3 separate regions of the Homo sapiens genome follow, and all the other regions are linked to region 1. Evidence: fine-mapped expression QTL. A gene starts in region 1. Each other region holds a variant in brackets. All regions are shown on one strand. Distances are from middle to middle. Region 1 holds the start of PORCN (porcupine O-acyltransferase). Region 2 overlaps FTSJ1 (FtsJ RNA 2'-O-methyltransferase 1). Region 3 has its middle 10 kb from the start of SSX3.

The links. PIP is the estimated chance that this variant, and not a neighbour inherited with it, causes the effect.
Region 2: its variant is fine-mapped to the expression of PORCN in fibroblasts (GTEx, PIP above 0.99).
Region 3: its variant is fine-mapped to the expression of PORCN in thyroid (GTEx, PIP 0.93).

The regions. Positions count from the first base shown.
Region 1 is chrX:48,504,547-48,512,619 of GRCh38, forward strand. PORCN (porcupine O-acyltransferase) reads left to right here and starts at 4,446. Exons shown (of 15, transcript NM_203475.3): 1 at 4,446-4,557; 2 at 5,238-5,410; 3 at 6,749-6,941; 4 at 7,346-7,389; 5 at 7,780-7,961; 6 at 8,043-8,073. The coding sequence starts at 5,275. It overlaps PORCN-DT (PORCN divergent transcript), which reads right to left and starts at 4,293. Exons shown (of 2, transcript NR_135596.1): 1 at 4,173-4,293; 2 at 1,980-2,509. RefSeq lists a silencer at 4,273-4,672.
Region 2 is chrX:48,483,734-48,491,806 of GRCh38, forward strand. It overlaps FTSJ1 (FtsJ RNA 2'-O-methyltransferase 1), which reads left to right. Exons shown (of 13, transcript NM_012280.4): 13 at 2,003-2,617. Among named protein-coding and RNA genes, the nearest start is that of FTSJ1, 12 kb to the left of the region's middle. RefSeq lists a silencer at 5,355-5,588. The variant G/A (reference allele first, on the strand shown) is at 3,742.
Region 3 is chrX:48,362,733-48,370,805 of GRCh38, forward strand. No RefSeq gene overlaps it. Among named protein-coding and RNA genes, the nearest start is that of SSX3, 10 kb to the left of the region's middle. The variant G/C (reference allele first, on the strand shown) is at 3,807.

The sequences.
Region 1 (8,073 bases):
GCTGGAGTGCAGTGGTGATCTCAGCTCACTGCAACCTTTGCTTCCCAGATTCATGCGATTCTCCTGCCTCCGCCTCCTGAGTAGCTGGGATTACAAGGCGCCCACCACCACACCTGGCTAATTTTTTTGTATTTTTAGTAGAGATGGGGTTTCACCATGTTGGCCAGGCTGGTCTCAAACTCCTGACCTCAGGTGATCCACCCATCTCAGCCTCCCAAAGTGCTGGGATTACAGGCGTGAGCCACCGCGCCTGGCCCAGAAAAGAATTTTTAAAAGTCCCAGCTACTCAGGAGGCCGAGGCAGGAGGATCACTTGAGCCCAGGAGTTGTAGGCTGCAGTGAGTTATGATTGAGCCACTGCCCTCCAGCCTGGGCAACACAGTGAGACCCTAACAATCAATCAGTCAATCAACAAAATAAGAATCTGGCCAGGCACGGTGGCTCATGCCTGTAATCCCAGCACTTTGGGAGGCTGAGGCGGGTGGATCACCTAAGGTCAGGAGTTCGAGACCAGCCTGGCCAACGTGGCAAAACCCGTCTCTACTAAAAATACAAAAATTAGCCAGGTGTGGTGGCGGGTGCCTGTAATCCCAGCTACTCGGGAGGCTGAGGCAGGAGAATCCATTGAACCCAGGAGGTGGAGGTTGCAGTGAGTGGAGATCACACCACTGCGCTCCAGCCTAGGTGACAGAACGAGACTCCGTTTCAATAAATAAATAAATAAATATAAAAAATAAAATAAAATAAGAATCTTATGAGTCCCAGAGAGAGAGAGAGAGAGAGACAAAGCTCTTCCTCACAGTAAAATCCCAGGTATATGTGTAAAAGAAAAATCATTATTTGGCCACCATCAGAGTAGTTATTGCTTCAGGCAAGAATCACCAATGAATGCTAAAGTAGTGAGTAAAAGTTTGATTTAAAAAAAATTGCAGAGTTACAGTCTCAAAGTATCTCCCGAAAAGCTACTTATTAATTACAAAAGGGGATCATGCCTGTAATCCCAGCACTTTGGGAGGCCAATGCAGGAGGATTGCTTAAGCCCAGGAATCCGAGACCAGCCTGGGCAACATAGTGAGACTGTTTCTACAAAAAATTTAAAAATTAGCCGGGCATGGTGACTCACACCTGTAGTCCTTGAAGATTACATGAGCCCAGGAGTTCAAAGATGCAGTGAACCATGATTGTGTCAATGCCCTCAAGCTTGCGTAATAGGGCAAGACCCTGTCTCCAAAAAAAAAGAAAAAAAATTACAAAGGGAAAAATAGTAAATTTATACTGGTGAAAACTAGAAGACCACTTTAAGCAAAAGATCAATGCTAATACTAACAATTTCGAGACTAACTGAACCCTCCTGCCTCCTGATAACGCTGAGAACACAGCGTCACTTCTGTGGAATTCCTGCCAAAAATGCAGAATTCAAATCTAATCATGAGGAGACATCAGATAAACCCAAATTGAAGGACATTCTTCCAAAGAACTGGTCTGTGCTCTCCCAAAACATCAAGATCATGAAAGTTAAGTGAAGATGGAGACATTGTTCCACATTGGAGGAGACTAAAAAAACCTGATAACAGAATGTATCTTGTGACCCTATGATTCCCTTTTCCTATACAAGGACACTATTGACATGCCCACCAGGGTGGCTAGAACCAAAAAGTCAGATAACAAGTATTTGTGAGGATGTGGAGCAATGGAAACCTCATACTATGCTGGTAGCAATGTAAAAAAAGAAAAAAAAGTCCTTGCTCTTAGGATATTCATACTGAAGTATTTAGTTAAAAGGGTGTCATATCCGCAACCACTAACAAATAATTCAGAAAAATCACTGTATATCATTCAGAAAAATTATATATATGTAAATTACATATGTATATACATGGGGAGAAAGAAACGGACAGAGACAGAGAGAGAGCAAATATGTTATCATTATAAGGCTTGGCATTTTTGTCAGTCCCATAAGTGAAAAATAGTATATCATTGTTTTTAATTTGTATCTCTTTAATTATGGAGAGCTCATCTAAAACACCCCAGAAACCACAACCTAGAATGACCACAGACATTTATTGAGTGTCCACCCTCTACTAAGCTCCAGTGATAAAAATATGAAGCACAACATCTGGTAGATGTAAAATGGTATTATATCTCACTGTTGTTTTAATTTTACATTTCCCTGAGCAGTAAAGAGATTGGGTTATCTTTTCATATATTATACATATTGACCATTTTAGGTTTCTTCTGCTGTGAATTACCTATTTGTACCCAATGTCTATTGCCAAGTGTATTGTTTGTCCTCTTCGGATTTGTAGATGTTCGTTATATATCCTAAAACCTAGATCCTACTTCTTTGTGACACAGGTCAAAAGCCTAGATGGAAACAATCAAGTCCGCAAAGCCCAGGAGCACATGTGGTAAGAATCTTCCAGTTTTAAATGCCAAGTCTTGCAATTGAGGGAAGTATTTCTGGTAGGTGCTGTGGGTCATTGTTGACTCAACTTGAGTGGGTTTGACAACTGAGAAAAAAATTAAAATGAAATTTAATTCATAAAATGTATGTCCTGTATTCTGCTGTTAAGGAAAAGAATTGATATTTGTGCATCTGGTCTAAGCTATTATTCCTTATATATACATATTCTTACCGTATTAAATGTTTTTTGTTTGTAATACATGAATACTAATTTATGAGCTAGAACTCCATTTAACTTCATGTTAAAATAGAGAGAAAATATACATTTCTCTTCAATTACCATTGGTGTTTCCCAGCAAAAACCTGCCAAGCCCACTCTTTTGTTTAACAGAAAAGGACAATGGAGACGGGTGAGTGAACATGACTTGCCCAGCTCCATACAGGCCATTGTTAATCTGATTAAAATCTGTTTCAGTTGGCTGCCCAGGTCAGGGTGGCGTCCAGTTTGACCTGGGCTTCCTTCTCCCTTCCACGTCACAGCTAAGCATGTAGTGCAGTAAGCGCCCAGTAAGTGCTCTTTTGGAAAAATAGGCCCTTCATCAGCCTAGGTACAAAGGGGAATGCCTAGAAACTGCAGCAGTAGGGTAGGTAGAAGGCGGGTGCTACATAAATCTTTAGTGTTGGTGCAGATAGAGGTGCGGATGGGGCCAGTGTAAGCGCTTTCTTTTTTATTTTATTTATTTATTTATTTAGAGAAGGAGTTTCGCTCTTGTTTATTTATTTATTTATTTTGGAGAAGGAGTTTTGCTCTTGTCACCCAGGCTGGAGTGCAATGGCGTGATCTCGGCTCACTGCAACCTCCGTCTCCTGGGCTCAAGTGATTCTCCTGCCTCAGCCTCCGGAGTAGCTGGGATTACAGGCGCCCAGCTAAATTTTTTGTATTTTTAGTAGAGACAGGGTTTCGCCATATTGGCCAGCCTGGTCTCAAACTCATGACCTCAGGTGATCCATCCGCCTCGGCCTTCCAAAGTGCTGGGTTACAGGTGTGAGCCACCACGCCCAGTCTTTATTTATTTATTTTGAGACGGAGTTTCGCTCTTGTAGCCCACAATGACGCGATCTTGGCTCACTGCAACCTCTGCCTCCTGATTCTCCTGCTTTAACCTCCCGAGTAGCTGGGATTACAAGCGTGCGCCACCACGCCTGGCTAATTTTTGTATTTTTAGTAGAGACGGGGTTTCGCCATGTTGGCCAGGCTGGTCTCGAACTCCTGACCTCAAGCTATCCTCCTACCCTTGGCCTCCCGAAGTGCTGGGTTTATAGGCGTGAGCCACCGAGCCTGGCCCTTAAGAGCTTTATAAATGCCCCCCTTTTAAGTGCTCGGTACTAGCCTCCCTCTAGTTCACAGAGAACATTTACTAGTCGCTGGGGTCACCTTCGAAGCAAAGAGTCTGCTGGGGAATTAAGCATGCAAATCACTTCTCAACGACGACACGCCAAGTGCTCACAGCTCGTCCCCAGGGGAAGCACAGGCGCCTAATTTGTGTTCCTAGGTGACACAGTCATTACTTATAAATGTTCCTGGCCGGTCCCAGGAGGTGGGAGGGTTGGGAGTTACTTCGGTTCTCTCAAAGGTTGGGGAAGGAGAGATCTCGGTTTGTTTTCCCATCTGTGAAACGGGGACACCACGGTATTTAGAGGACGTGCGCGGGTGACTATTTGGGGGTGCAGCGGCTTCCCTCCTCCCTCCCCCATCTTTCCCTTCTCACTTCCAAGGCTTGGAAATTTGGAGATTCGGAAGTTTGTTCTTGGATGGCCAGAAATCCTCCGGAGGCAGACGGTCTGGGGCTGAAACCGCCACAGGCCGGAAAGGTGCGGGCGTGAACGTCCTGCGCGCCGACGTCCCCCCGCGCCGGTCTCCCCTCAATCCTCCTGCTCCCCTCCTCCGCGTCCCCGTCCCCGCCCCCCTCCTGCTCTCCCATTGGCCGAGCCGGCGGCCGGGCCGCCCCGGGATTTAAAGGGCCCGCTCGCCGCGCCGCTCTGGGAGCCGCTGCTGGTCCCGGCCTTGCGGCCTGCGGGGGAGGCTGCCCGGAGGAGGCAGCGGCGGCGGCAGCGCGTCCTCGGTCCCCAGGACCACGGCTTCTTTCCTGCCAGGTAGGTCGCCAGTAGTGCGCACGCGGCTCCCCAGCTCCCATCCCTGGGCCGGCCTCCCCAGGCGGATCTGTAGCGCGAGTGCTAGGACCCCCTCCCCATCACCTTTCCGACTCTCCCTCAGGCTATGTCTCCTACCACCACCTCCTTGCAGCCCCCGGACCTGGGCAGGACTTTGTTGGCGGCCTCTCGCCGGGTGGGGATGAGATGGGGGGCGCGGAGGATACAGGACACCCCCCCTCCCCGTGCCGCCGCATCCATACAAGGAGAGATGCACACGGCCCCCAAGTGTCACAGAATCCCCCTCTCTGCCCTCCACTCAGAGCGACTCTACCTTGGAAACCAGGGATTCCCCTTCCCGTCGCCCGCCCCATTTGATATATGGGCCTGAAATGTATGCCATCCCATCACCATCGGACTGGACTGTTCACAGCACTGGAGAGACAGAGGTCCTTCATTCACTCCAGGTCACAGGCTGTGCGTGTGCATGCCGAACACCCACATGCACACAGTTGGTGGCTCAGTCTGATGTACCTGACTTCTCACGCCTTCCCCCAGTCCTCCAGTACCGTGCCTCTACATGGGCTGGGCAGCCCCAAACTGAAATGTGAGTGCCAGAGTGCATCCTTTAAGCGAGGTCTGCCCCACGGACACCCGCTCCCTCTGTGTCCCTGCTTTGACAGATCTATCCATCTGGCCATCCATCCGTGGGGGTCTGCAATGGCCACCTTTAGCCGCCAGGAATTTTTCCAGCAGCTACTGCAAGGCTGTCTCCTGCCTACTGCCCAGCAGGGCCTTGACCAGATCTGGCTGCTCCTTGCCATCTGCCTCGCCTGCCGCCTCCTCTGGAGGCTCGGTAAGTGCCTGCCATACCGTGTGCCACCATGCCAGGCCATATCAGACCTCCCACATTCATCCATATCGAGCCACACCTTACCCTGTCACATCCTGCCAGGCCCTAGCATGTCCAAGCTGGACCCCAACATGTTCAGCCCCACCACATCCCACCAGGCCAAACCCCATTCCACCATACCACATCCTACTATGCCAGCCACCCCATGCCATGCCACACCGAGCCACATCCTGCCATGCCAAGCCATGCCCTTCAGTATTCCTGAGTTCTGGGATTCCAGAAAGCTGAGATTCTTGGATCTTGGGATTCTGAAATGTCTACATCCCAAGGTTATAAGACATTGGCATGCTGATGTCACAGGGTTATGGAATCCCAAAGTACCATGATTACAGCGTTTGGAGATTCTGACAATTTGAAATTCTCACATTCTAGACTTCTAAAATGTTGGCATTGTGGATTTCTATAATCAGGGCATGATGCGATTTCTGGATTCTAGGATTCTGAAATGTTTCCACAGTCATAGCAGGCCTGTATCTTAATGAAAGATTCCAAGTCCCCAAGATTCCTATAGGAGGCGGAGATTTCTGGAAATCTGAGATCCGAAGGTTCTACACTTTCTTTTTTCTTTCTTTCTTTTTTAATTTTAAATGGATGTTCTATTTTTTCCCAGGTTTATTATTTTGAAATTTTTCAAAGCTACTGAAATGTTGAAAAAATAGTACAGTGAGCACCCACGTATGCATCACCAGATTCTCTGTCAACATCTTGCCACGTTAGCTGGCTCTATCTGTCTATCTATCTATCTATCTGTATATCTATCCATCTATCTATCTATCTATCTATCCATCTATCTATCTATCATCTTCCTGAATTGCCTGAATAACCTGCTGACATCATGACACTGTACCCCACATCCTTCAGTGTGTGGCCCCTGAGAACAAGGACATCATCTCCCACAACCACATCCTCCACCATCACCCCACAAGACATTGAATCTGGATACAATAATGTTATCCTATATAAATTGATATTTGAATTTCTTCCAAGGTCCCCCAAATGCCCTTTATAGATGTTTCTTTTCTTTAAACCCAGGCCCTGCCACCCTCTCCAGCTCCCCAACACCTGCTTTGGGCCCCTCCAATCCCACTACATTCCAGCCTGAAGGCCTTTGCCCTGGCTACGCCCTCTACCCAGGTCATCCTCCCCTTCCTACTAGCCCACCAACCTTCTCTTTCTTGTTCTCCCTCTCTCTCTCCCTCCCTCCCTCCCTTCCTCCCACTCCCTCTCTTTCTCTCTCTTTCTCGTTCTCTCTCTCCCTTTCTTTCTCCCTTTCACCCAAAGGGTTGCCATCCTACCTGAAGCATGCAAGCACCGTGGCAGGCGGGTTCTTCAGCCTCTACCACTTCTTCCAGCTGCACATGGTTTGGGTCGTGCTGCTCAGCCTCCTGTGCTACCTCGTGCTGTTCCTCTGCCGACATTCCTCCCATCGAGGCGTCTTCCTATCCGTCACCATCCTCATCTACCTACTCATGGGGTATGAGTATGCATCCTTATCCTCACACTGTTGGCTGAAGTGCATGGGTGGGTCCCCAGGCCCCATATGAAGTTGTCCAAGACAGGGAGGGTGGTGAGATTCCCCGGAGAAAGAAGGGAGTCTGGGAGAATCATTTGCCTATGAGGAGACACAGAACAGGTAGGACGTGGAGTGTCCCTGGAGAAGGGAATCTGGGAGATTTGTCCTTTCACAGGACTGTAAGGGACAGGTTGGGCATGGGCTCCCCCTGGAGGAGGGAGCCTGGGAGAATTTTTCCACCATGAGACTGTTGTAGGACAGGAGGAGGTAGAACCCTCTGGGCACCTTGGACCCCCTTCCCCTGTCCCCCATGGTCTCAGAGGCCATGAGTGTCATGGGACCAAGACCAGCACCTTTTTCCTCAGTGAGATGCACATGGTAGACACCGTGACATGGCACAAGATGCGAGGTAGGTAGCCCTGCCCCTCTCACCTGCCCAACCCCCCTGCCCCACTCCTCGTCTCCTAACTGCCCCCACCCTGTGCCTTTCCTCTCCTGCTTTTCTCCCTCACCTGCCCACCCCACTGGACGTGCAGACCTCACATTACTCTTGGGTCCGTGTCTCTTTCCACCGTGCATTTTCCCGAAGTCTGTCTGTCTCGTGTCATGTATGTGCCTGACTCTCTGGAGTAAGGGCATCTATCTGTCCTGGGCTTCCTTGCCCACCTGCCTATCTGTCCCATGCCCACCTATCCATCCTTGTGCCCGCTTTTCCTACCACATCTCACCTGGTGCACCTCCTCCTTGCCATGCTGATCTGCTCTCTGCCCATCCACTTGACCATGGGCACCACACATAGGGGCACAGATGATTGTGGCCATGAAGGCAGTGTCTCTGGGCTTCGACCTGGACCGGGGCGAGGTGGGTACGGTGCCCTCGCCAGTGGAGTTCATGGGCTACCTCTACTTCGTGGGCACCATCGTCTTCGGGCCCTGGATATCCTTCCACAGCTACCTACAAGCTGTCCAAGGCCGCCCACTGGTGAGGTCCTGAGTGGATGGGTGGGCAGGGACTGTGGGAGCCACCCTGGGGCAGCACTCATGGAGTGCTTGATCCCTACAGAGCTGCCGGTGGCTGCAGAAGGTGGCCCGGA
Region 2 (8,073 bases), 21 kb before region 1:
CCTCGGCCTCCCAAAGTACCAGGATTACAGGCATGAGCCACTGCGCCCAGCCAGTTTGCACTTTTTAAAAGGGTTGTCATAGAAGGCCTCAGACATTCCTCAGAGGTAATGTTTGAGCAAAGACCTGAAGGCACTGCCGGAGGGAAGCCATGTGTTTATCTGAGGGAAGAGCATTCTGGGTAAAGGAAATAGGCATGTCCCAAAGGTGGAACTGCACGTGGTATGGGAGGAAAGTTTATCCATAGCCAAATGTTCTAAAACCACGATGTTAGAGGATGGCCCTTTCTGACAATGGCATAGCAGGTTATTCAGACTAAGTCAGCCATCACAAAAAGCCACCTTTTTTTTTTTCTTGAGACAGAGTCTTACTCTGTTACCCAGGCTGGAGTGCAGTGGCATGATCTCAGCTCACGGCAACCTCCATCTACCAAGTTCAAGCGATTCTCCTGCCTCAGCCTCCCAAATAGCTGGGATTACAGTGCCCGCCACTATGCATGGCTAATTTTTGTATTTTTAGTAGAGATGGGGTTTTGCCATGTTGACCAGACTGGTCTCAAACTCGTGACCTCAGGTGATCCACCTGCCTCGGCCTCCCAAAGTGTTGGGATTACAGGTGTGAGCCACCACACCTGGCCTTTTTTGTTTTGTTTTTTGTTTTGTTTTGAGAACAGAGTCTCGCTCTGTCGCCCAGGCTGGGTGGAGTGCAGTGGCACTATCTCAGCTCACTCCAACCTCCGCCTCCCGGGTTCAAGAGATTCTCCTGCCTCAGCCTCCTGAGTAGCTGGGATTACAGACGTGTGCTCCCACCTCACCCGGCTAATTTTTGTATTTTTAGTAGAGACGGGGTTTCACCATGTTGGCCAGGCTGGTCTCAAACTCCTGACCTCACAAAATCTGCCTGCCTCAGGCCTCCCAAAGTGCTGGGATTACAGGCCTGAGCCACCACACCTGGCCACAAGAAGCCACCTTAAGAAAAAATTGAAACAGCAAATCATTGTGTGAAAGAGATTTACAGTTTTTAATATTTAAAGGGTCCTGTAAATCAATAAGGAAAAACATGAGAGTGGCCAGTAAGCACATGAAAAGCTGCTCATCAGGAAAATACAAGTGAAAACTCAAAATATCAACAACACTAAGTATTTGAAAGGATATGCAGCAATTGAAAGCCTCGTACATGCTACTGGGAAGGTAAAATGGTGCAGCCACTGTGGAAACTTAGGCATTACCTACTAAAGCTGCATGTGTGCCAGTTCCACTCCTAAGAAATGAGTCCTAGAGGCCGGGTGCCGTGGCTCAACGCCTGTAATCCCAGCACTTTGGGAGGCCGAGGTGGGTGGATCACCTGAGGTCAGGAGTTCAAGACCAGCCTGACCAACATGGCAAAACCCCATCTCTACTAAAAATACAAAAATTAACCGGGCATGGTGGCGGGCACCTGTAATCCCAGCTACTCAGGAGGCTGAGGCAGGAGAATCACTTGAACCTGGGAGGTGGAGGTTGCAGTGAGCTGAGATCGTGCCACTGCACTCCAGCCTGGGTGACAGAGTCAGACTCCATCTCAAAAAAAAGGAAATGAGTCCTAGAGTGTTGCTAGCAGCACTATCTATAGTATATGCCCATTAAATCGTGGTACATTCACCGTGGAGAACTGTACAACAATGACAGTGAACATCCTGCAATTACACCAAATAACACCTTGTAGTTATTCATTAAACTGAACATATATAGGTTTTATGCATTTTCTATATGTCATGGTTCACCATAAAAGGAGGAAATGTCACAAAAATGTTAGCAGCAGAGTTAGCTAGGTGTGGTGGCACATTCCTGCCTGTAATCCCAGCTACTTGGGAGGCTGAGGTGGGAGGATCACTTGAGCTTGGGAGGTTAAGGTTGTCGTGAGCTATGATGGAGCTCCACTGCACTCCAGCCTGGGTGACAGAGCAAGACCCTGTCTCTAAAAAAACAAAACAAAACAAAAAAACTTTCTTTGACTTTTGGTTAGCTGGCAAACTGATACAACTCAGAAACTGCTCAATGTCAGGAAAACCGGAACTTGTTGATGAACTTGTTTTCAAAATATCATCTCATCAACGAGGCCTGGACAAACAAGCCCTGAGGAGGGATCTGCAACAACCCTGAAGACAACAAGGAAAGAAACCATGAAAGTCTGTCTGTACTGCAGTGGGAATTCTTGAGTGAGGTCTTACCTCTTCTTTAAACCTCTTCAGGAGTGTCCTGATTATGTCCAGAATTTTCCCTAAAGGCAGGGATTCTTAACCTGGATAGAAGCCAGGGGTAACCATGAACTTGATGGAAGAAAATGTTACATCTTTATTTTCAGCAATGAAACTGAAATTTAGCCTTACTCCCAAGTTATAAATGCTGGCAACAAATCACAGTAGTAAAAGCAGTACCTGGGATTTTCCCACCAATACAAACCAGTTACAGCAACTGTAATGTAACATAAAAAGGGCATCTTGAAGTATTGTTCATATTTGTCACCTCTTGGAATGATAGCAGATCCTGTAAGTTGATGTATTAATTAAAAAGCCCATATATTACTGCATCTCAATTTTGTTTCAATTTAATATATAGTAATAATTGTAATTCAATGTAATTGGCTTCCATTGTAATTGTGTGTGTGTGTATGTGTATGTATATACTTTTAAAAATATTCTGTGAAGGGGTTCACAGATTTAACCAGATGCCAAAGGGTTCTGCAGAACAAATTTATTTATTTATTTTGAGACAGAATTTCGCTCTGTCACCCAGGCTGGAGTGCAGTGGTGTGATCTTGGCTCACTGCAACCTCTGCCTCCTGGGTTCAAGCGATTCTCCTGCCTCAGCCTCCCGAGTAACTGGGATTACAGGCACCCGCCACCACACCCGGCTAATTTTCGTATTTTTAGTAGAGACGGGGTTTCACCATTTTGTCCAGGCTGGTCTCGAACTCCTGACCTCAGGTGATCCACCCACCTCGGCCTCCCAAAGTGCTGGGATTACATGCGTGAACCACCGCACCCAGACTTCAGAACAAATTTTTTAGGTTAAAAACCTGTCTTAAAGAAACGTCAGGGCCAGGCGTGGTGGCTCACGCCTGTAATCCCAGCACTTTGGGAGGCTGAGGCAAGCGGATCACTTGAGGTCAGGAGTTTGAGACCAGTCTGGCCAACATAGTGAAACCCGTCTCTACCAAAAATACAAAAATTAGCTGGGTGCGGTGGCACATGCCTGTAATCCCAGCTACTCAGGAGACTGAGGCAGGAGAATCACCTGAACCCGGGAGATGAAGGTTACAGTGAGCCGAGGTCGCGCCACTGCACTCCAGCCTGGACGACAGAGTGAGACTCTGTCTCAAAAAAAAAAAGCAATGTCAGAAAGTCTACCTGGACTGCAGTCCTAAATTTCTATAACTTAATGAACAGGAGCTGACAGAAACTCCCCAGCTACACGAACAGAACTGTTTTCTACAGCTTAATCCTGTGTCCTTAGAAATTCACGTACTCTGTGATCCAAGGACTATCCACGCCACAGTCCAGTGACCTCAGGAGTATCCACATACCAGTCTGCGACCCCAGCTGTTTCCACACCTGACTGTGACTCACCCCAGTTACCATGTGTGACCCCAGGAGTATGCACACTCAAGTCTGGGAAAACCATTGTCCAATCTCCAGTCAGAAATGGTGTTTAAATTCTGGAGCGTGTGTTCATAGGCATGTCTACACTCCGGTCTCTGACCAC[G/A]AAAATAACCACACCCCAGTCTGTGTGACTCCAGGAATGTCCAGACCCCAGTTTGTGTCAGTCTAGGAGTGTCCACACCATGGTGACTTAACCCAGGAGTCTTCTCACCGAAGTCAGTGTGACCACAGGAATGCCCACACCCCAATCTGTGAATATGCACAGCCCAAGAATGTATGGCGGAAGTGTCCACACAAAAGGCCGTGTGACCACAGGCGTAGCCACACCCATTACAGTGCAAATTCAGCAGCGTTCACACGACAGCCTGTGAGACCTCAGGAGTGTCCTCACGCCAGGTTCTGTGAGTCCAGCAGTGGCAATGGCTTGGAGTTTCCATAGCCATCTTAGTGGTGCCATAAATGTGTAGCTCAAACGGTGACCACAGAGGAGTCCACAGCTCAGTCTGTGGTGTCCTGGGAGTGGTTTTGCCCCAGTCCAGCCACCTCAGGAGTGTCCCCACCCAAGTTTTTATGACACAAGTAATGTCCAGTTCCCAGCATATGTGACCCTGGTGTTGTCCAAACCCCATAGTCTCTGGCTATTAGTGTGTCTATACCCATCTTGACGGCCTCAGGCAGGTGCACTCCCCCATCTGTACGACCAGAAGACTATCGACTCCCCTGTCATTGTGACCACAGGAGTGTAAAACTCCAGTGCCAGTGACTACTGGTGGGTCCACATTCCAGTCTGGGTGACCCAGGGGAGGGCACAGCCCTGTCTGTGTGACCATAGGAGTCTTCACACCCCAGTGTCTGTAAACACACAGGAGTCAATTCCCCAGTCAGTGTGACCAGAGGAATGTTCACACCAAATTGTGTGACCACAGGAGTGTCCACACCTATCTGCATGTCCTGAGAGGTGTCTATACTCCAGTGGGTATGACACCAACAGTGTCCACAACAAAGTCTGTGTGACTCCAGGAGTGTCCCTCCCCCCAGTCAGTGGGAGTCTAGAAGGATCTACACCAAGTCTTGGGAGCCCAAGGGTGTCCCTTCGCCAATCTTTGTCACTCAGGGGACATTCACCCCCCAGTCACACAGACGAAGCATATCCACAGCTGGGTCTGTGTGACCCCAGCAGAGTCTACTTCACAAGTCGTGTAACCACAGGAGTGTCCCCAGACGAACCTATGGGAATCCAGGAGTGTCCACATCACAGTCACTTGACCACAGTGGTGCTGACTTCCCAGTTTATGTATCCTTAGCCATGTCCTTTTTCCAGACTGTGTGACCCTAAGTGTCCACACCCCAAACTCGGTGATCCAAGTCACTCCAGTCTGCGTGACTCCAGTGTTGCCCACACACCAATCTGTATGACCCTAAGAGAACACATCCCGGTCTGTGATGCTTCAGCAGTGGCCACACCCTACTCTGTGTGACCCCAGAAGTGGCTACACCACAATCAGCATGACCTCAGGATTTCTTACTCCAAAATCTAGTAACATCATGAGTGTCTACACCCTCACCTGTGTGATTCCAAGAGGATCCACACCCCAGGCTGTGTGACCCTGGGAAGGTCCCTATAGCAGTCAGTGTAAACCTGGGAGTGCACTCTTCCCTGTCAGTGTGAGCTGGGAGGGTGTATCTAGAGGAAGAGTGATCCAGGGAAAGGCGAAGGGCCGGATGTGGTGGCTCACACCTGTAATCCCAACACTTTGGGAGGCCAAGGTGGGTGGATCACCTGAGGTCAGGGGTTTGAGACCAGCCTGGGCAACATGGTGAAACCCCGTCTCTACTAAAAATACAAAAATTAGCCAGGCGTGGTGGCACATACCTGTAATCCCAGCTACTTGGGAGGCTGAGGCAGGAGAATCACTTGAACCTGGGAGGCGGAGGTTGCAGTGAGCTGAGGTTGTGCCACTGCACTCCAGCCTGGGTGATAGGCCAAGACTCTGTCTCAAAAAAAAGAAAGAAAGGCAAGGGCCCTGAGGCAATGGCCCTGAGGTGCCTGGCACATTTGAAGAACAGGCCAGTGGGGCAGGAGCAGAGTGAACAAGGAGCCAGTGGCGGGCGGTGAGGTCAAGGAGGGCCCGGAGGGCCTCGTGGGCCACGGAGAGGACTTTGGCTTTTTCTCTGAGAGAGATGAGAGCCATGGCAGGGCTCCGAGCAGAGGAGGGCCCCGGGCTGACTTGGGTTGCAACAGGATCCCTCTGGCTGCTGTGGTGGCGGCTACTCAACTGTTATTGTTTGTCAAAACTCAGAGAACTGTATGCCAAAAGGGTGAACTTTATCGTATGTAAATTATAACTCTTTACATTTAAGTTATAACTTTTGGAAAATGTGCAGTACTGGCCAGGCATGGTGGCTCATGCCTGTAATCCCAGCACTTTGGGAGGCTGAGGTGGGAGGATCGTTTTAGCCTGGGAGATTGAGGCGGCAGTGAGCTGAGATCATGCTGCTGCCCTCCAGCCTGGACAACAGAGCAAGACCCTGTTTTGAAGAAAAAACAAAAAACAAAACAAAACAAAAAAAGTGCAGTACTTTGCAAGCAATAAAGATTTCTATTTCTGCAAGAGAGGCTGTGCTCATGCCTGTCCTTACCCCTCTCCTTCCTGCACAAACACATCTCAGGAATGCACCTGAGGAAAAGGAGGGAGCCGGGGCCTCCCTCAACTGCTCAAGGTAGTGCTCCCTTTGTTGTCTGCTGTGAACTGAATTGTGAATTCAGCAAATTCCTTTGTTGAAGCTTTAATCCTCAATGTGACTGTATTTGGAGATGGGGGTAATTAAGATTAAATGAGGCCATAAGGGCAGGGTCCTAATCTGATAGAACCGGTGTCCTCATTAGAGAGGGAAGAGATGCCTGAGCTCCCTCCCTCTCTCCCTGTGGGCGCACAAAGGAAAAGCCACATGAGGACAGAGAAAGAAGGTGGCTGTCTACGAGCCAGAAAGAGAAGCCTCACCAGAAACCAACCCTACCGGCACCTTGATCTTGAACTTCCAGCCTCCAGAACTGTGAGAAAATAAACGTCTGTGGTTTAAGCCACCCAGTCTGAGGTATTTTGTTAAGGCAGTCTGAGCAGCTAATTGGCTCTCAGTTTCAAGGCTGATTTCAAGAGACTCGTGTTGGCCAGGTATGAGGGGAGCCAGTGCTCAAGTGAAGGAAGGAAAATTCAGCACATCCTCCTCGTCTAGCTGAAGGGGGCTCTGGAGCAGCAGGAGGGGCCCAGGGCAAGCCTGGAATGAAATCCGTGGCACTCCTGCAGGTTCTGGGGGCGGTGTCCATGGAATATCCTCTGCCACATAACAAAATGACTAATAATTGCTTGGGGAGCTTTCAGAACTGCCCCAAGGCTTCCTCTAACACTCCACCCACACCTGGTTCATGCCAGGTTGCTCGATGCCTTGGTTCGGGAGAATAGGTGTGGTGTCATCTCAGGCTTGGTGGCAGCCCAAGGGAAGGGGCAAGTGTTCTGAGTCTCTCTAGATGACACAGGAGCTGAGGAAAGCTGGAGTGAATTATGAGTCACAGCCCGTACCTCACAAGAAAGTTCTGCCCGATGCCAGAGCTGGGAGCCATCACCAGTTATGCAGGGTTGGTGGAGAAGAGCCTCGGGATAATTGGTATGCATGCCCGCACATAGGTGTGTGCGTACCAGTACGTGTGAAGTTATGCAGGAGTGCGTGGTGTGCTTATGCCCATGTGTGTGCACATTAGTCCTTTTGTGCATGCATGCATACATGGCACATGTGTGTGCATTCATGCTTTGCTGTTTTGAATGCAGGTATGGTTATAAGTGCATATGGGCAACAGAAGTTCAAGTGTGAATTCTCATGGAGATGCTAGGGTGTAGCAGGCACATGGGGACCTGTTCCCTGACAGGGGTGTTTGTGAAAAGCAACTGTGCATATGTGTGAGGGTGTACTTATATATGAGATTCTATGTGCAAAGCCCTATGTCCGTGGGTGCTAGCCTGAGTGTTTGTGTCTGTGTATATACATGTGTATGCCAGCGTGCACATGCATGGCTGTGTGTGAGTGCGTAAGTGAAGGGGAGCACATTGGCCCAAGCTGGTAAGTCTAGTATCTATGCATGTATACCCCTGGGCACCGCCCCCCCCGCCCCGTGCAAGTGTGAGTGAACAGGTACACAAGGGCCTGGGCGTAGATGTCTGTGCACATGTACGTGGGCATGCTGTATGCATGGCTGCAGGGATTTCCCACGTGTGTGTGTGCACAGATGCACAAGTGCCCAGGAACCTAGATTGTGGTGTCTGTACACATGTACCTCTGGGCACCATGCATGTGTGTGTGCAAAAGTGCAAGTGTGCCTATGGGCTCAGGTCTGGCTGTCTGTGTACATATACCCCCTGGATGCCCATAAAGGTGTGAGTGT
Region 3 (8,073 bases), 140 kb before region 1:
GATTTAAATCTATGATCCACTTGACTTACTTTTTTGTATAAAGGTGTGAAGATTAGGCCTTTTTGGTTTTTTTTTTTTCTTTTTGGCCTATGGCTCTGCAACTGCCCCAGCATCATTTGTTAAGCAGATGATCTTTCCCTATTTTTGTCTCTTGGTAAAAAATCAGTGTGGGGCTATTTCTAGGATTTCTATTTTGTTACAGTGATCTATGTGTCTATTTTTCTCCCAATAATATATAGTCTTGATTCCTGTAGCTATATAAGAAGTATTGAAATATGGTAGAGCAATTCCTCCCACCTTATTCTTCTTTTTCAAAAATTGTCTTAGCTATATAAATATTTTTTGAGATGGAGTCTCACTTTTGTCGTCCAAGCTGGAGGGCAGTGGGGTGACCTCGGCTCACTGCAATCTCTGTCTACCGTGTTCAAGCGGTTCTCCTGTCTCAGCTTCCCGAGTAGCTGGGATATCAGGTGCACGCCACTACACCGGCTAATTTTTGTATTTTTAGTAGAGACAGGGTTTCGCCATGTTGGCCAGGCTGGTTTCAAACTCCTGACCTCAAGCGATCTGCCCGTCTCAGCCTCCCAAAGTGCTGGGAATACAGGTGTGAGCCACCGGGCCCAGTGTTGTCTTAGCTATTGACAATTTGTTACAGCAGCAATCAAAAATGAATACACTTAGAAATAGATTAATTAGTGAAACAAAATAATAAGTCAAGAAACAAACTAATTTATATACAAACTTAAGCATGCATTTCCAAACAGTGGGCAAAAGATGGGTTGTGTAATAAAGGATTGTTGACAAGTGTCTATCCATTTGGAAAAATAAACATTAAATCCTTACTTTCAACCACATAAAATAATAAATTCTAAAAATTCAGAGACTTAAATGTGAAAACGTGAAGTCATAAAGAACTAGATGAAATTTTAGGAAAATATTACAGTGTAAGACATCTTGAGTTGGCATAGGCACTTCCTGATATTACACCAAGGCTATAAATAATGAATCTGACATATTTAAAGACGTAAAAATTAAAGTATCATCTAAGTCAAAAGACACCATAAAAAACTGTTTAAAAAGGCAAATATTAGGCCAGGCACAGTGGCTCATGCCTGTAATCTCAGTACTTTGGGAGGCCAAGGCGGGCAGATCACGAGGTCAGCAGATCGAGACCATCCTGGCTACCACGGTGAAACCCCGTCTCTACTAAAAGTACAAAAAATTAGCCGGGTGTGGTGGTGGGCGCCTGTAGTCCCAGCTGCTCGGGAGGCTGAGGCAGGAGAATGGTATGAACCTGGCAGGAGAATGGCATGAACCTGGGAGGTGGAGCTTGCAGTGAGCCGAGATCGCACCACTGCACTCCATCCTCGGCAACAGAGTGAGACTCCATCTCAAAAAAAAAAAAAAAAGGCAAATTTTGGGGAAAATGAAGCATCCCCAATAAATTAACAGTAACCATCTCTAATATATAACAAAGCGTTTCCATATCAATAAGAGAAACTGGAACAACCCAATGAAAAAATGTGTTCAGGCATGGCACTACTTTATCATATAGCAGAAAAGGATTACAAAACAGAAATTACGAAAGGAAAATAATAAAGGAAGTGGAGAAGAGATCCAAGAACTTTCAACGTTCATCCAATAGAAGATCCAGAGGTAGAGAATAGAAAGACTGGGATGGGCGCGGTGGCTCACGCCTGTTATTCCAACACTTTGGGAGGCCAAGGGAGGCAGATTACCTGAGGTCAGGAGTTCGAGACCAGCCTGTCCAACATGGTGAAACCCCGCCTCTACTAAAAATACGAAAATTAGCCCAGTGTGGTGGGGGGCACCTGAAATCCCAGCTACTTGGGAGGCTGAGGCAGGAGAATCACTTGAACCCGGGAAACAGATGTTGCAGTGAGCTGAGGTCCTGCCACTGCACTCCAACCTCAGTGTCAGAGCAAAACTCCATCTCAAAAATGAAAAAAAAAAATAGACTGGAGAGAAGGCAGTACTTGAAGAAATAATGTTCTAGAATTTTCCCAGCTGAACAAAGACATGAATCTTCAACCTGAAAAGAGCCACCTAGTTCTGAGCCTGATTAACACACATGTGCACACACACCTGTGCACGCACGAGCGCACACACACACACACACCCTCGGGGTAAAATTTCTAGGATAAAGATAAAATCCTGAAAGGTCCCAGAGAGAAAAAGAGAAGAGAGAATGCAATGGAGAGGTTTTTCAAGGAGCTGATTTAAAATAACTTTGGGCCAGGCGCAGTGGCTCATGCCTGTAGTCCCAGCACTTTCGGCGCCAAGACCGGATGCTCGCTTGAGCTCAGGAGTTTGAGACCAGCCTGGCCAACAAGGCGAAACCCACTTCTACAAAAAACACAAGTAACCAGGTGTGGTGCCACATGCCTGTAGTCCCAGCTACTTGGGAGGCTGAGGCAGGAGAATTGCTTGAGTCCGGGAGGTGGAGATTGCAGTGAGCCGAGATTGTGCCATTGCATTCCAGCCTGGGTGACAGAGCCAGGCACTATCTCAAAAAAACAAAACAAGAACAAACAATAAAAAAAGTTGAACCTAGATATCTATATACAGCCAGGATAATCCAGAATGAGGGGAAAAATATTTCAGAAAATTCATGACGCATATACCCTTCAGAAATAATTATTGGTATACAGTCCTGTGAGAAGGGAAAACTAAATTTAGGAGGAAGGAGGTGATTTCAGTAAGCAATGGTGAGGAGAAAAATAGTAAAATTTATTGAAAAGTGTAAACTTTAGATTGAAAAATTTAAAAATTACAGTCTTGAACTAAAATTCCCAGTATTATAAACTTGGAAGATGGGAGCAGGGACAAGAAAGAAAAGATAAGCTGTTTTGGTGTTCAAGGAATGGATACAGATGCTAATGAATGATAGAATTTGGTGGTGCATGCCTGTAACCCGAGCTACTCAGGAGGCTGGGGCAGAAGAATCACTTAAACCTGGGTGGTGGAGGTTGCATTGAGGTGAGATCACACCATTGCACTCCAGCCTGGGAAACAAGAGTGAAACTCTGAAAAAATAAGTAAATAAAAGGCCAGGCACAGTGGCTCACGCCTGTAATCCCAGCACTTTGGGAGGCCGAGACAGGTGGATCCCTTGAGTTCAGGAGTTCGAGACCAGTCTGGCCAACAAGGTGAAACTCCGTCTCTACCAAAAATACAAAAATTAGCCTGGCATAGTGTCACACGCCTGAGGTTCCAGCTACTCAAGAGGCTGAGGCAGGAGAATTGCTTGGACTCGGGAGGCAGAGGTTCAGTGAGCCAAGATCGTGCCACTGCACTCCAATCTGGGCGACAGAGGAAGACTCTGTCTCAAATAAATAAATAAATAAGTAAATAGAAAACCTATTGGATAGATTGGATATGAAAACATTAACTGCTCAAATAAATAATTCAGCGGAATAGATTGGATGTTAAAACCGATATAGTTGAAAAAGCAATTACTGAGCTGAGGAAATGCATCTAAAGAATTCATGAAAGTAATCGGTAATGGATAAAGAAGAAGTAAATGAAAGAAAAGTTAATTAATAGGGAGGATAGAAGAATAAATGTCAAAACACATCTAATAGTAGCCTTATAAGAAGAGAATATAGTCATTAAAAAGGAGAGTGTACTTAAATAAGTAATCAATGAGAATTCCTCAGATTTAAAAAAATGACTTAAGATTTAAAGGTATTATAGTACACACACACACACACACACACACACAGGAAAAGTGAAATGTAAAATTGTGAAAGACAAAGAAAAAATATTTTAAAAATGAACAGAGA[G/C]AAATAGCAGGTTACTTACAGAGGAAAAATAATTAAACTGACATCGGATCTCTCAAATACTACACTGGAGGCAAGGATACAATCGTGTAATAATTCCAAGGTGTTGAAAAATATGATTTTTTTTTGACTGAGTCTCGCTTTCTCACCCAGGCTGGAGTGCAGTGGCATGATCTCAGCTCACGGCAACCTCTGCCTCCTGGGATCAAGCAAATCTCCTGCCTCAGCCTCCTGAGTAGCTGGGGCTACAGGCACACAACACCACACCCGGCTAATTTTTGTACTTTTAGTAGAGATGTGGTCTTGCCATGTTGGCCAGGCTGGTCTGGAACCCTTGACCTCAAGTTATCTGCCTGCCTCGGCCTCCCAAAGTGCTGGGATTACAGGCATAAACCACTGCACCCGACGAAAGAAAGGAATTTTTATACCGGTGGAGTAAAGACAATGTCAGCCATATGACTTCAGGAGATTGAAGACACAGGGAAATGTTGAAGCAAACAAGTATTTATTGGGCTTATTAAAGACTGTAAGGAAGGGCCAGCTGCAGTGGCTCATGCCTGTAATCCCAGAACTTTGGGAGCCTGAAGCAACAGGATTGATTGAGCCCAGGAGTTCAAGACCAGCCTGGGCAACATGGCAAAACCCCGTCTCTACAAAAAATTCAAAAATTAGACGGGCATATCAAGTTCCTGGGTCTGTAGAGAATTTAAATATATATATATATATACATGGCTGGATTTGGTGGTGCGTACCTGTAATCCCAGCTATTTGGTAGGCTGGGGCAGGAATATTGCTTGGGCCCTGGAATTTCAGGCTGCAGTGAGCTAGGATTGGGTCACTGCCCTCCAGCCTGAGTTACAGAGTGAGACTTTGTCTCTGAAAATAAAAAAAAAAAAAGATCGTAAGGACGATTTTACTCAGAGGGGGGACTACTGTGATAGGTACAGGGACCACTGCAATGGGGTCTTGCAGTGGGAGAGTGATATTGGGATCGACTTCAACTCCACAAGGACAAGTGGGGATTTGTAGTCAGGGAGTAGGAGCCGGGGGTCAGAAGATGGGAAATTACTTGGAGGAAGCCTCAGGTGCAGGGGGATTCTGGCTAAACCGACTTGACAGGTTTTTTGCTGAAAAAGGCTAAATGGGCAGAGTCCCTGGATGAAGGACAGAGCCTGAGGTTGAGACCTAGTCAGAAACAGGACTCAGAGGAGCCCGATTCAAGTTTGGTCAAAGGAGAGTGTCTCTGTCTGAAAGCATAAGCAAGAAAGCCAACAGCAGTAAAATGAATGGGTCACAAAGGAGAATTTTTGTGCATTGCTAAGCAGGGCTCTGCTTTAACCATTGTGAAAGAAGTGAGTCATTCTTTTTTTTTTTTAGATGAAGTCTCGCTGTGTCACCCAGGCTGGAGTGCAGTGCGTGATCTCGGCTCACTGAAACCTCAGCTTCCTGGGTTGAAGCGATTCTCCTGCTTCAGCCTCCCGAGTAGCTGGGACTACAGTCACGTGCCTCACACCGGACTAATTTTGTATTTTTACTAGAGACAGGGTTTTACCATGTCGACCAGGCTGGTCTCGAACTCCTGACCTCAAGCCATCTGCCCGCCTTGGCCTCCCAAAGTGCTGAGATTTCAGGCGTGTGCCACTGAAACCCACCTGAATTGAGTCATTTTCCACATACACAACTAGGTCAGAGTTGAGTGGCCAGGGGAGAAACCAATCAGGGCACATTGCACCTGCTCCAAGAATTGAATTTTCCACAAAGCTGGTGGCTGAAATGGCCTGCTGCCACCCTAAGAGCACTTTTACCTAGTAACTGCTGAAACAACCTGCAATGACTCTAAGGCTTGTTTTACCTATTGTCCACACTCACCAATCAGAGCTTCCAGCTCCTGAAAGCTTCTCTGGTGCCAAGGGACTTGCTTTAAAAACTATAGGTAACATTTCTGTTTCTAATAAAACTCTCAACTTTCTCATTGTTCTTTGGACATACCAAAGACCAGCCAGTTTGTGTGTATGCTTCAGATTACAATTCTATGATTCTCAAATAAAATGTTTAGAGATTCATGGGCGTGGTGGATCACGCCTGTAATCCCAGCCGTTTGGGAGGCTGAGGCCGGCGGATCACTTCAGCCCAGGGGTTCGTGACCTGCCTGGGCAACATGGTGAAATCCTGTCTCTACAAAAATTACAAAAAATTAGCTGGATGTGGTGGTGCATGCCTGTAATCCCAGTTATTCCAGAGGCTGAGTCGGGGAGGCAGAGGTTGCAGTGAGCCGAGATTGTGCCACTGCACTCCGGGGTGGACGACAGAGTGAGACCCTGTCTTAAAAAACAAAAACAAAAACCATAATATAACATCCTTAATATTGCGATTTAAAAAAGAGATTCATCTCCATAGGTTTTGACTTTGATATTTGTGGTGTCAGAAATCGGGTCCGAAGCTGACTCACCTTGGAGATATCAATGACCTCTGGAACTATGGCGTGAGGTCTGCACACTTGGTCCCCTTGAGCTTTTGCTTTTCTGGTTGCCTCTTTCCCCCCGGTGAGACTTTCTTGGATCAAACTGCCATTTGTCGGGGAGTTGAGTTCAGTTTTATTTGGGAATTTGTTAGGAAGGGTCTTTCTCTGTCTCCTGGTTATGAAACCTCCTCTTTTCTTTTCCTTTCTTTTCTTGTCTTGTCTTTTTTATCTTGTCTTTCTCTTTTCTTTCTTTCTTTTTTTTTTTTTTTGAGACAGTGTTTTGCTCTGTCGCACAGGCTGCAGTGCAGTGGTGTGATCTGGGCTCACTGCAACCTTCACCTCCCAGGCTCAAGTGATTCTCGTGCATCGTCCTCCCGAGTAACTGGGATTACAGGTGTGCGCCACTACGCCTGGATAATTTTTGTGTTTTTTAGTAGACATGTGGTTTCACCCTGTTAGCCAGGCTGGTCTTGAAGTCCTGAGCTCAAGTGATCTGCCCGCCTCGGCCTCCCAAAGTGCTGGGATTACAGGCGTGAGCCACTACACCCAGCCAGAGACGGCCTGTTTAAGAGGGATTTTCTCCCTCCTGGTTATGAGGCCGGGTTACAGAGATTTTTCTGTTAGAGAAGGCTTCTCATGCTTCCTGGTAAGTTTGTACTTTATTTTCTGAGTCGTTTGCATGCTTAGAGTTTAATTTGGCTTTTGTGTATTAGGCATTAAACCGAATCACCTAGATTAATTTATTTACACACAGGCTCTCAAAGTTCAAAGGCATGCCAACATAGTTCCCTCTTTCTGGGACGCCAGCTGGTAATATGTGCCAACATTACGGGGATCATTCACGCAGTCTGTTTTCCTCAAACTGAACTAAAATAATACAGTCCAAATGGGACTCCTATCTCAGTTGGTATCTTGAGGCTCCAGAACACATTCAAGACTCAAAGGCTGCCTCACTGCAAGATATTGTCTAAAGCTAGCTGAGATTTTCTTCTCCAACACCTTCCCCTCTCCTTCGTTTACCTCTTCCTCTTTATCCTTCTTTAAGCAAAACTCTTTTTCCAAAACTCCTCAGCTACTCTGGCATACTGACTATTAAAATAAAGACAGTTGAAAGACATCAGATACAAATAAAATAAAATCACTGACCTTTGTAGTGTTTCTTAAAAGCAAAAGATGAAATTCCCATGTAAAAGATCTCCTTCCTATACTAAAAGGAAAGACAACACTCTTATCTTCAAGGATGAGGAATTGAGACCAAGAGAACATTATACAAAGCTTATTGGAATACCTCTTATCTTTTGGGCCTCCTCACATAATTCAGTCACATTTTTACAGTTAACAATTCTTTGTCTAATTCAACATGTTGGTAACTGACTCAAACTGCTTTACCCAAAATTTGGGTCACCACCTTCATAAGATTACCTATTGAGGAGAAAAATCTTAAATAAAGTTTAGCCTTCTTCCATTTTGTCAGAAATATAATTTAGATCCAACGTCTTTTATAAATCGGTGAGTTTGTATGGTTTACTGTCCCATAATCAAAATTCTAAAATGAAAGTTATCTTTGTTTATGTACGTATCTGTGTTTGGGCGTATTCCTGCGTATGTACATGTGTTATGTTAAATGTGTCTACATGGTAAAATCCGGAATCGTTGGCAAACAATTATTTAAAGAATCCTATTCAGATTGGCTTAAATAGGTACTCATATAAATACACAGTAATTAACTAAAACGCATTTAGTTCATGCAACTTAATTAAGTAGTTGAAAAATAAGCTGGTTTTAAAATTGTTGGTAAAATAAAATGAG